Regions from separate parts of the Homo sapiens genome. Here region 2 is linked to region 1. The links come from fine-mapping of genetic effects on gene expression. A gene starts in region 1. The other region holds a variant in brackets. All regions are shown on one strand. Distances are from middle to middle.

Region 1 (5,374 bases):
GTCCCCAGGCCATGACCAGGGCTGCAGTGTCCCCAGGGTTAGAGCTGGTCAGTGCAGAACTGGGCATCCCCCTCAAAACACAGCACTGACAGCAGCAGCAGAGCGTTGAGCTGTGAGGCAGGACGTCCCACCCGGGGAGGGGCCCCTTCCTTGGGCTCACGTTCTCAGGAGATCACAGTGCAGTGTCAGCCAGGGCTGCAGTCTCATCTGAAAGCTCCCCTGGAGCCTCTGCATCCAAGCTCACGCACATGGCTGGTGACTGGACCCAGTTCCCCCCGGGTCGCTGAACTAAGGGCCTGAGTTCTTTGATGGTTGTTGGCCTAAGGCCACCCCAGCTCCGTGCAGGGGAGGGCAGGGGCCTCTCCACCAGGCACTCTGAGGAGTGCTCACCCCCCGCAGGGAGAGGCGGGAGGGACGGGGAAGGGCAGAGGACACATCAGGTTTTTCATCTTACTGCGTTTTTTTTAAAACAGGAAGATCTGAAGCCAACTACATTCAGCAAGTTTTCTTAAGAACAAAGTAAGAAAGATAAACCAGAACAGCCCTGCTTGGCTTATCCCGGCCTCGCCTTAACCCTCCCTTCCCTGCCGTCTTTCTGTGGCTCCCCTCTGCCAGGTGCCCCCTGAACTTTAAGATTCCAGGATGGTTTGAGAACAACTTCGATGTTTCTGTTTTCCCATTTATGAAGGCTACTGTGCTCTCACCAGTGAATTTAATTACAAGATTTTTAGAAGCAGCTAAAAAAATTGCAACTCAGATGCATCAGTGAATCAGTCCTATTCCCTGTCTGCTAAAGGATGTCTTTTCGTTACCATCATCTGCCGCAGGGCTTTTCTGACAGTTCATATAATTCAAGATAATTGAAGCCAATTTTGCAAGCAAAACGACAGGAACCACTACATGAAATAGCACATCAAGTCTCTGATTCACAACAATGGCACTATTTCCTCAATGGTTTTAAAATTCTCTTGGCTAGGCGTAGTGGCTCACGCCTGTAATCCCAGCACTTTGGGAGGCCGGGGCGGGCAGGTTGTTTGAGCTCAGGGGTTCAAGACCAGCCTGGGCAACAACGTGAGACCCTGTCTCTACAAAAAATACAAAAATTAGCTGGGCTTGGTGGCGCATGCCTGTAGTCCCAGCTACTTGGGAGACTGAGGTGTATCAATTGAGAAAAATGACAAGACAAGTCTCAATCATTTTAGGAGGTTTACTCGCCAAAGTTAAGGACGAACACTCGGGAGACAGTCTGTACCTTTCTCCGAAGATGATTTTGAGGGCTCCAAATTTAAAGGGGAAAGGGTGAGATAATGACAAGTACACAATTTTCATCTAAGAGGCGGGTAGAGAAAAATAGTCATGCGTTTGGCTCATTGAATCTGCATTATTTTTACACAAGATGACTTAGACAAAGGGGGCAGGGGAACAATCAGGTTTGCATTTGTGTCTGGCGGGCAGGGGTTGACTGCACCTGTAAAGATGAGCTATCGATTTGCATTGCTGTGGTGAAATCTTAACAGAAACACCTTACAGTAAAGATTGCGGAGCTCACTAGGAATTTCCTTGTGGACAAAATATAGGGGAGGTGTGCAGTTTTTCATCTTGCAGCATCTTATTTAGGGACCAAAAGGGGAGGCAGGTTTGCATGACCCAGTTCCCAGCTTGACTTTTCCCTTTGGCTTGAGTTTGGGGGCCCAAGATTTATTTTCCCTTCACAGGTGGGACGATGGGTTGCAGGGAGGATGGGAGCCTGGGAGGCAGGGTTGCAGGGAGCCAAGATCATGCCACTGCACTCCAGCCTAGGTGACAGAGTGAGATCCTGTCTCAAACAAAACAAAACAAAACAAAACCTCTCTCTGGAAGAGAAAGGAGGGACTGTGAAAACAACCGAGGGAACAGGCAGCTTTCATTACCAGCAGCATGGGATCCTCGCCCAAGGCCGAGAAAACACAGGAGTGAAATGACAGCTATAGAGGTACACTCCGCAGGCTGCATGAAAAGGACAAAAACAGTAATATACACACCAGTAAGGAACGGCATTGGCATGCTCCGCCTCCTGTGGGCAGCCTGGGGATGAGGTCATTTTCCAAAACAGGGAGCTGGTCAGCATTTTCCATGCCCAGGGCAAGTTCCCCTTGATGGACAGCACCTAATGACCAGCGCTGAGTCAGTCTAGGAGCAGAAAGACTGGAAACCCTGGAGTAGGGGCCACGTCAGCATGACTCACTCAAGCAACGGCAAATTCTCACAGCAACAACATGAAACGCCCTCCAGGGTGATGACTGTGGGAGCAAAACTGACCGGAACCTGGGCGGTGCATGCACTGTGCACCCTCCTGGTTAACAGCCCCACGGCCCGAGAGCTGTGCTTTACATGAATGTCTTCTGTTAAAGCAGCTCGTGTGGCTTCTGCACCCTGGTGGAGCCAACACACGTGCCTGTCACGGAGGTGAGGAGTGAGTGAGTTCTCACCAGCATTTGACGCTGACCTTCCGGAGACATGGCGTCCCTGAGAGCCTGCAGCCTGCCAGAGCAGAGAGCCACCCGCTGGCCGTTCTGTTGGAATTTCGGAGTTCCTGTCTTTCAGGCAACATCTGCCAAGCGCGGTTTGTGTAAGGAAACCCATTCTGTCGTGTCTGCCGGGGCCCAGGGCGGCTGCTGTGCGGGAACCAGCTTTTGTGGCCCATGGAGCAACGACTCAGTCTGGGGCTCGGCTACTCTCCGGCCCGGGGTACTGGCATTTCCCTGGGGCCCATGGGGCGAGTGCCCCTATTTTTCCCATGAGGCCTCAGCCAAGAGGAGGTTCGGGAAGAAAGGAAAACACAGGTGAGGAGAGAGAAGGGCGGGCAGAGAGGTACCACGCCATTAGTGCTGATGGGGAGAGGCGGCTCCAGCCCGGCACTGCTGTCCTTACGAGGCATGTTTCCTTTTTATTCGGAGGAAGAGAAGCAGAGGAACACGTCATGGAGACGGACCGAGTTGAAGGAGCCAGGGATGGTGACAAGCGGAAGGAAGTGTGTTTTGTCCCCATCCAGGGAAGCTTTTGTTTCATGAGACTTACTTGCGCACGTCTGGTAGCTGCCCTGGACATTCATGGACTTTCGTTTTCACTCAGATTTTGTGGTTCACGTGACACAAAGCATGAGGACATCACTGGGCGAGAGGGCCAGGTCACCCCACTGCCGAGGGGCACGCCCCAGCTGTGCACCGCTAGAGTGGGCTTGTCCAGTCCTCGGACACGGGGACAGGGTGTGCCCATCTCATGTAAGACATGAATAATAGTAGAAATTTCTGTTGCATGAGAACTCTCTGCATTATCCTCACCATTTTCCTGTAAGCGTAAAACGTCTAAAACTTTTTTATGAGCACACTAATTCCTCACTTAAGGTCGTCATTAGGTTCTTGGAAATGGCAACTTTAAACAAAAGGACAGACAGCAGGTCCTCAAATAACATTCTTTCCTTCAACATCATTTCATCCTAAGGAGAAAAAAATGGATTTTGTTACATATCCTGGTTCATTTCCAAGAACCAGGTGGGCATAGAATTGACCAAAGGTGGAGGAGAACAGATGTGCGGCTCCGTCCTGGCTGTGTGGCTCCGTCCTGTGGACTAATGCGTGTGGACAGTCAGGAACACTTTCAGGACAATGTGGGTGGCCTGCCAATGGGACCTATTCCAGAGGTCTGAGAAGAAACCGTTGTTTAACCTAGAATCCTGCTAGGAATCAAACTAGCTTTGACAGGAAAAGGAAAAAGAATGAGGACTCTGAACAGGGACAGACTCAGAACAATTCTTATCCACTCATAGTTTAGGAAATAATCTTACAGCATGTGCTCCACCAGGGTCACCAACTGTCCCAATTTGCTTGGGACTGAAGGTTTGTTTGTTTTTGTTTCTTTGTTTTGAGACAGAGCGTCTCTCTCTGTTACCCAGGCTAGAGTGCAATGGCGTGATTTTAGCTCACTACAACCTCCACTTTCCAGGTTCAAGCAATTCTCCTGTCTCAGCCTCCCTGAGTGGCAGGGATTACAGGAACCCACCACCATGCTGGCTAATTTTTCAATATTTAGTAGAGATGGGGTTTCACCATGTTGGCCAGGCTGGTCTCGAACTCCTGACCTCAAGTGATCCACTTGCCTCAGCTCCCAAAGTGCTGGGATTACAGGCATGAGCCACCGTGCCCAGCCTACTGAGGGGTTTTTATGGACATGGGACTTTTAATGCTAACACTAGGACAGTCTCTGTCAGACTGAGATGATGGTCACTCTTTGGCCAAACACCTCCACCACTGCCCCGCAACATCCATAATAGCAACAGTTTGAGTAAAGACACAAGTACCATTTGCGGTCCAAATACTTGAGTGTGTAAACGGTGCATTGGGTGTGCACAGCGGTACCCAGAATCTCCAACTAGCTCCTCATGAGCTGGGTGGGGCATGCAGGGAAGGAGGCAAAGCTTCCCACCTGTCTGGGGAGGCTGTGGGCTCCACCTCTGCAGACTTTGGTAGGAGACCAGTGTTCATGCAGTTGTAGTAATGCACGTGTAGCTTAGGGTTTTTTTGGGACTAAACTATGGACAAAGCACAGAACTCAGTTGTCTCTGTAGAAAAGGGTGGCCTGTCACCCGGTACCAGGTGAGGGGAGTGTGGCAGTGGCAAGAGCACCTGGTGGTGGCCGAGAGGAGGCACGGAGGAGAGTCAGGGTACCGTGCCCTCATGGAGTGAGTGCGGAAGACAAAACAACAGACACAGTTGTAATGACATTACTTTATTTGGGGTTAAATTAGGGTGCACATCACAGAAAATCCTCAAACCACAGGGAATGAAATGGAAGTTGTTTCTCTCTGGTAAAACAAGTCTGAAAGCTGCAGTGTCATCAGATCCACGGCCCTGCATCTCTGCCACACCCCACCATGCACCTCCAGTCCTCCCGGCCTGTGGCTTCCAGGGCTCCAGGAACTAGGGAGGGACAGACACTGGGATCTTCTGCCATGAAGCAGAGAGGGATGCTGGGGAAACACATGGGCACTCGCTGCCACAAGTGCCTCCTGGAAAAGCAAAACCCAATGCCATGGCTGCCTCCCTCCGGCAGCACCAGCACGAGTGAGCCAGATCCTCACCTTTGATCATCAAGGCTGAGAGGTAATATCTGAGGTCGACAGATCAAGAAGTAGAGACAAAAGCAAACCAGGCTGGTGGTAAAGAGGAGGAATGACCGTAAGATGCCTCTGAAAAGTGGGAATATGGGGAATCTCCTCTTGGTTTCTGGTTGCACATGTGAATTTATTGAAAACTGAATATATTAAGATGTGAGCTTAGGAGTTGGCAGCCTGTGGCATGGGGAGGTGTGGGAAGTGGACAGTCTCAGGTCAGGGTGG
Region 2 (5,374 bases), 45 kb after region 1:
ACACCGGGCATGGTGCCCATCTACCATCACTGAACACTGGGCATGGTGCCTGTCCATAATCATTGGACACTGGGCATAGGGCCCGTCCATAATCATTGGACACAGGGCATGAGGCCCATCTACCATCACTGAACACTGGGCATGGTGCCTGTCCATAATCACTGGACACTGGGCATGGTGCCTGTCCATAATCACTGGACACTGGGCATGGGGCCCATCCATTATCACTGGACAATGAGCTGGACACTGGGCATGGTGCCCATACACCCTCATTAGACAATGGGCATTGTACCCATCCATTACCAATGGACACTGAGCATGGTGCCCATCCACCATCATTGGACCCTGGGCATTGCACCATCCACCATCACTGGACACTTGGCATAGCACCTGTTCATAATCACTGAACAATGGCTATGATGCCTGTCCACCATTATTGGGCATGGCACCCATACACCCTCATCAGACACTGGGCATGGTCCACCATCATTGGACACTTGGCATGTCCAATGACCATAATTACTGAACAATGGGCATGGTGCCTGTCCACCATCACTGGACACTGGGCAAGGCACTTGTACACTCTCATCAGACATTGAGCACGGTACACCATTATTGGACACTGGACATGGCGCCCATCCACTATCAATTGACCCTGAACATACCTGTCCATCATCATTAGACACTGGACATGGCGTCCATCCACCATCAATTGAATCATCATTAGACACTGGGCATGGTGCCCATCCACCATCAATTGACCCTGAACATACCTGTCCATCATCATTAGACATTGGACATGGCACCCATCGATAATCATAGCACACTTGGCACGGTGCCTGTCCATAATCACTGGACACTGGGCATGGCCCATCCAGCATCACTGGACACAGGGCATGGCACAGTCCCCACCATTGGACATGGGACACAGTGTCCATCTACCATCAGGAGACTCATAGCACTGGACATGGCACTCATCCATTCAGGCCTTTGAGAACGCCCAGAGGAACAGTTTCCTTGGGCAGCAGAGCAGCCATGGGACTCTGAGGGAGCCATGCTTGGTGGGAGTGAAGGGCAGGCGGTGGGCAATGTGGCCAGAGAGTTGCCTCACTGGGCTGACCCGTGTTCCCCAGCAGCTGGCAGCTTTGTGGGTCAGTTTCCACCCTCTCCATGGGCTCAGGTGGCCTCAAGTGTTGGGAACCACCCCACTTTAAAAAGATTAATCAATAAGTCACATTAGCAAATTCACCAACAGCAAATTGAACCCTCACTGTCTATAGGGGACATACTATGAGGAGGAATCAGTTAATTTATGCAGATAGCTAATTACCCCTACAAGTAACCAATTACGAAGCTGCTATTTCTTTGGATGAATGCTGAGCCTGCCCACTGACATCTGACCCAAAACACTGGACCTGCACTTGACCGTGGTCTGACGGAGGAAGCACCCGGAGACAATTCCAGCTGGTACAAGAGTTCACTCGGAAAGCAGGGCTTGGAGCAGGGGCCAGCGCCTGCTGCTCAGGGTCAGTTCCCCCGCTGCCAGTGTGGCTAACGTTAGCCTGGGCATGTGGATGAGAAGGAGCTTGAGGGGTGGGTAGGAACAGGAGCCCTGCCCCGGAGGCTGTGGCCATGGGTGGAGTTGGGAGAGTCTGAAGGAGCCCTCACCTCGAGGGTTGTTGTAAAAGAGTGTGAGCTCCCTTGAAAGATAAGCCGCGCTCGGGGAGCTCCATTCCTCACCCCGGAGCTGTGGGCTCAGCCTCTCAGCACCCTGGGCTCAGCCTCTGAGTCCTGGCGTGGGGAAGACGATGCCTGTGTGCCACAATTGTTGGTGGATTAAATCATTCACTAGGTGTCCATCTCCATCCGCAACAGTCACAACTGGCTTGGTGGAAGAGGTTGTTCTGTACTAGCCACAATATTTGTGATTCTCCTCCCTTTAAATGAATTAATCAATAACATCATTGTCAAATTCACCATCAGCAAATTGAACCCCAAAATTAAACATCCAAAACACAGACTGACTCAGTGGTGGTGCCAAGGGGGGCTTAGGTGGAGATGTTCACATTTGTCGAGCACCTTCACCAGGGCGTGGCCATGCCTGGCGCAGGGCTTCCAGCCCAC[C/G]TGACCTTCTCTGCAGGCGCTGAACACTCCCAGCCTCCCGCATTGGGGTGGGGCCGTGTGATTCCTTTCAGGCCAATGGAGTGCAGCCAGAAGTGACAAACCCACTTCCAGGATTGTCCTAAAAACTCTCACAAAATCATCTCCACTCACCGCACCCGTCGGTCCGCTGGGAGGTGGTAAACTGAGGTCCCAAATCGTCTTGTAGAAAGTAATCTGCAGAAAATCAGACTGGACTGTGATGTAAGCCAGAAATCAGCCTGCATTGGATTCACCCTTTTCCTGTTTAGGAAAAAACAAAAAGTGCAGCTCACTCCCAGCGCTCATTTAATTTTACATAAACACGCTCTTTGAGGCTGAAGCAAATCAGATTTTCAATGTGAAAATAAAATATAAAAGCTGTTCTTGGAGTTATTTCTAAACAGAACTAGCATCAGAATTGTCTGAATCATCAGAATTGTCTATTTTTGAAAAATCAGATTCATCAAATGAATCTTCAGCCAAAAACTGTTTGAGAATGATGTTAACATCACGCGGAGGAATGCTACGTTTTCTAGGATTTGACATTTTCAGCGATTGAGAATGACTGTATTTTGTAAATGGAAGTACCTCTACTAAAAACAGAGTGCTATAAATAGAATGATGTGTTTTGTTTCCAAAGTCGATATACTCGAGCACTGTGAAAATAATAAAAACAAGATATTGTGTGGCAAAGTTATCTCGGGGTAAACGCTGCAGCCACAAGCACCACCAGTGAGTATTCTTGGAGCAAATAGGAAAGGGTTAAACTGCTGGGATTGGGGGGTTATCTGTTACCAGGCTAACGTTTGCTCAATTCGAATACAGAGCATGTATTTCCAAGAAGTTGCTGCCTGCATGGAACAAGCGACAAGTCACCTGTGGCCAGAAGCCACCCCCATTAGATTCCACAAAGCCTTAGTGCGAAGGATTGGTCAGCAGGGGAAGCTTAGAGATTGGACCAGCCTGGCCAACATGGCGAAACCTCATCTCTACTAAAAATACAAAAATTAGCGCAATCTCGGCTCACGGCAACCTCCACCTCCTAAGTTCAAGCGATTCTCCTGCCTCAGCCTCCCGAGTAGCTGGGATTACAGGCACCCACCACCATGCCTGGCTACTTTTTCTATTTTTAGTAGAGATCGGGTTTCGCCATGTTGGCCAGGCTGGTCTCAAACTTCTGACCTCAGGTGATCCACCCACCTTGGCCTCCGAAAGTGCTGGGATTACAGGTGTGAGCTACCACACCCAGCCTGAATCTCCAATTTCTAAGCCTCCCTGCTGACCAATCCTTCTTCAGAATGAAACCATACTCCTTCGGCTATTTTAATGTCAGTTCTCTTGTGTCAAAATAAAATACAAACACCCCAAGTGACACCACTCTATTAATACTGGATTCAGTTCACTGTAGCTTGGATGTTTAACTTTTCAAATTACGAGAAATGAGCCAGGCACAGTAGAGCATGCCTCTAGTCTCAGCTACTCAGGAGGCTGAGGCAGGAGGATCACTTGAGGCCAGGAGTTCAAGGCTGCAATGCACTAAAATCATACCACTGCACTCCAGCCTGGGCAACAAACCAAGAAATAAAATTATAAGAAATGATCATTCGTTATAAAATTAACCTGATATCCAATATTAAGAGTTAAGCCGGGTGTGGTGGCTCACATCTTTAATCCCAGCACTCTGGGAGGCTGAGGTGGGCGAATCACTTGAGGTCAGGAGTTCGAGACCAGCCTGGCCAAGAGAGTGAAATCCCATCTCTACTAAAAATACAAAAATTAGCATGACATAGTGGTGGTGCGCCTGTAATCCCAGCTACTTGGGAGGCTGAGGCAGGAGAGTCTTTGAACCCGGGAGGCAGAGGTTGCAGTGAGCTGAGATTGTGCCACTGCACTCCAGCCTAGGTGACAGAGGGAGACTGTCACAAAAAAAAAAATAAAGAAAGAAAGAAAAAGAAAAAAAAACTATTAAGAATTAAAGAGGCCAGGCGCGGTGGCTCATGCCTGTAATCCCAGCACTTTGGGAGGCTGAGGCAGGCAGATCACGAGGTCAGGAGATCGAGACCATCCTGGCAACACGGTGAAACCCCGTCTCTACTAAAAATACAAAAAATTAGCCGGGCGTGGTGGCGGGCGCCTGTCGTCCCAGCTACTCGGGAGGCTGAGGCAGGAGAATGGCGTGAACCCGCGAGGCAGAGGTTGCAGTGAGCTGAGATTGCGCCACTGCACTCCAACCTGGGCGACAGAGCGAGGCTCCGTCCCAAAAAAAAAAAAAAAAAAAGAAAGACGTTTGAACTTCCTGACTTCTTACACAGGCCTAGTTCTTATAACATCAGACAGACGAGCACCACCTGCGGTGTTCATTCACATACTTGGGTTGAAAAAGACAGACGCAAGCTCAGGCTGGAGTGAGGAAAGGACACAGAGAGGTTTCATATGTGGGCTGTCTCAGGATCCCGAGCCTCAGGAAGTGGCTACAACCCAAACTGCAAAGACCCCAGCACTCTTTTTCTCAGCGTTCAGCCTCCACCTGTGTATTCGCTTTGCTCCTCCATCTCTAGACGGCTTTCACTACTTACCTGGGCTCCAGGCTCCATGAAATTCTGTGTCCGGAATTGGTGGGTTCTTGGTCTCACTGACTTCAAGAATGAAGCCGCGGACCCTCGCGGTGAGTGTTACAGCTCTTAAGGTGGCGCGTCTGGAGTCTGTTCCTTCTGATGTTCAGATGTGTTCAGAGTTTCTTTCTTCTGGTGGGTTCGTGGTCTCACTGGCTCAGGAGTGAAACGGCAGACCTTCGCGGTGAGTGTTACAGCTCTTAAGGCAGCATGTCTGGAGTTGTTCTTTCCTCCCGGTGGGCTCGTGGTCTCGCTCGGTTCGGGAGTGAAGCTGCAGATTTTCCCTGTGAGTGTTACAGCTCATAAAAGCAGCATGGACCCAAAGAGTGAACAGTAGCAAGATTTATTGCAAAGAGCAAAAGAGCAAAGCTTCCATAGCGTTGAAGGAGACCCGAGTGGGTTGCCAATGCTGGCTCGGGCAGCCTGCTTTTATTCTCTTATCTGGCCCCACCCACATCCTGCTGATTGGCAGAGCCCAGTGGCCTGTTTTTGTCAGGGCACTGATTGGTGCGTTTACAATCCCTGAGCTAGATGCAAAGGTTCTCCACGTCCCCATCAGATTAGTTAGATACAGAGTTTCCACACACAGGTTCTCCAAGGCCTCACCAGAGCAGCTAGAT

Direction of the effects. Positions count from the first base shown, and alleles are read on the strand shown. Sizes are in standard deviations (SD) of each study's normalised expression.
For the expression in testis of the gene that starts at base 2,259 in region 1, C is the high allele of the variant in region 2 and G is the other (small effect, 0.33 SD a copy in GTEx).

What was found. PIP is the estimated chance that this variant, and not a neighbour inherited with it, causes the effect.
Region 2: its variant is the best candidate, but not a certain one, in a credible set for the expression of PRECSIT in testis (GTEx, PIP 0.72).

Annotation. Positions count from the first base shown.
Region 1 is chr13:110,867,193-110,872,566 of GRCh38, reverse strand. It overlaps PRECSIT (p53 regulated carcinoma associated Stat3 activating long intergenic non-protein coding transcript), which reads left to right and starts at 2,259. Exons shown (of 1, transcript NR_027701.1): 1 at 2,259-5,374. RefSeq lists enhancers at 1,959-3,158, 2,516-3,202.
Region 2 is chr13:110,821,892-110,827,265 of GRCh38, reverse strand. It overlaps LOC105370363 (a long non-coding RNA gene), which reads right to left and starts at 5,159. Exons shown (of 2, transcript XR_007063874.1): 1 at 4,719-5,159; 2 at 1-2,403. The variant C/G (reference allele first, on the strand shown) is at 2,125.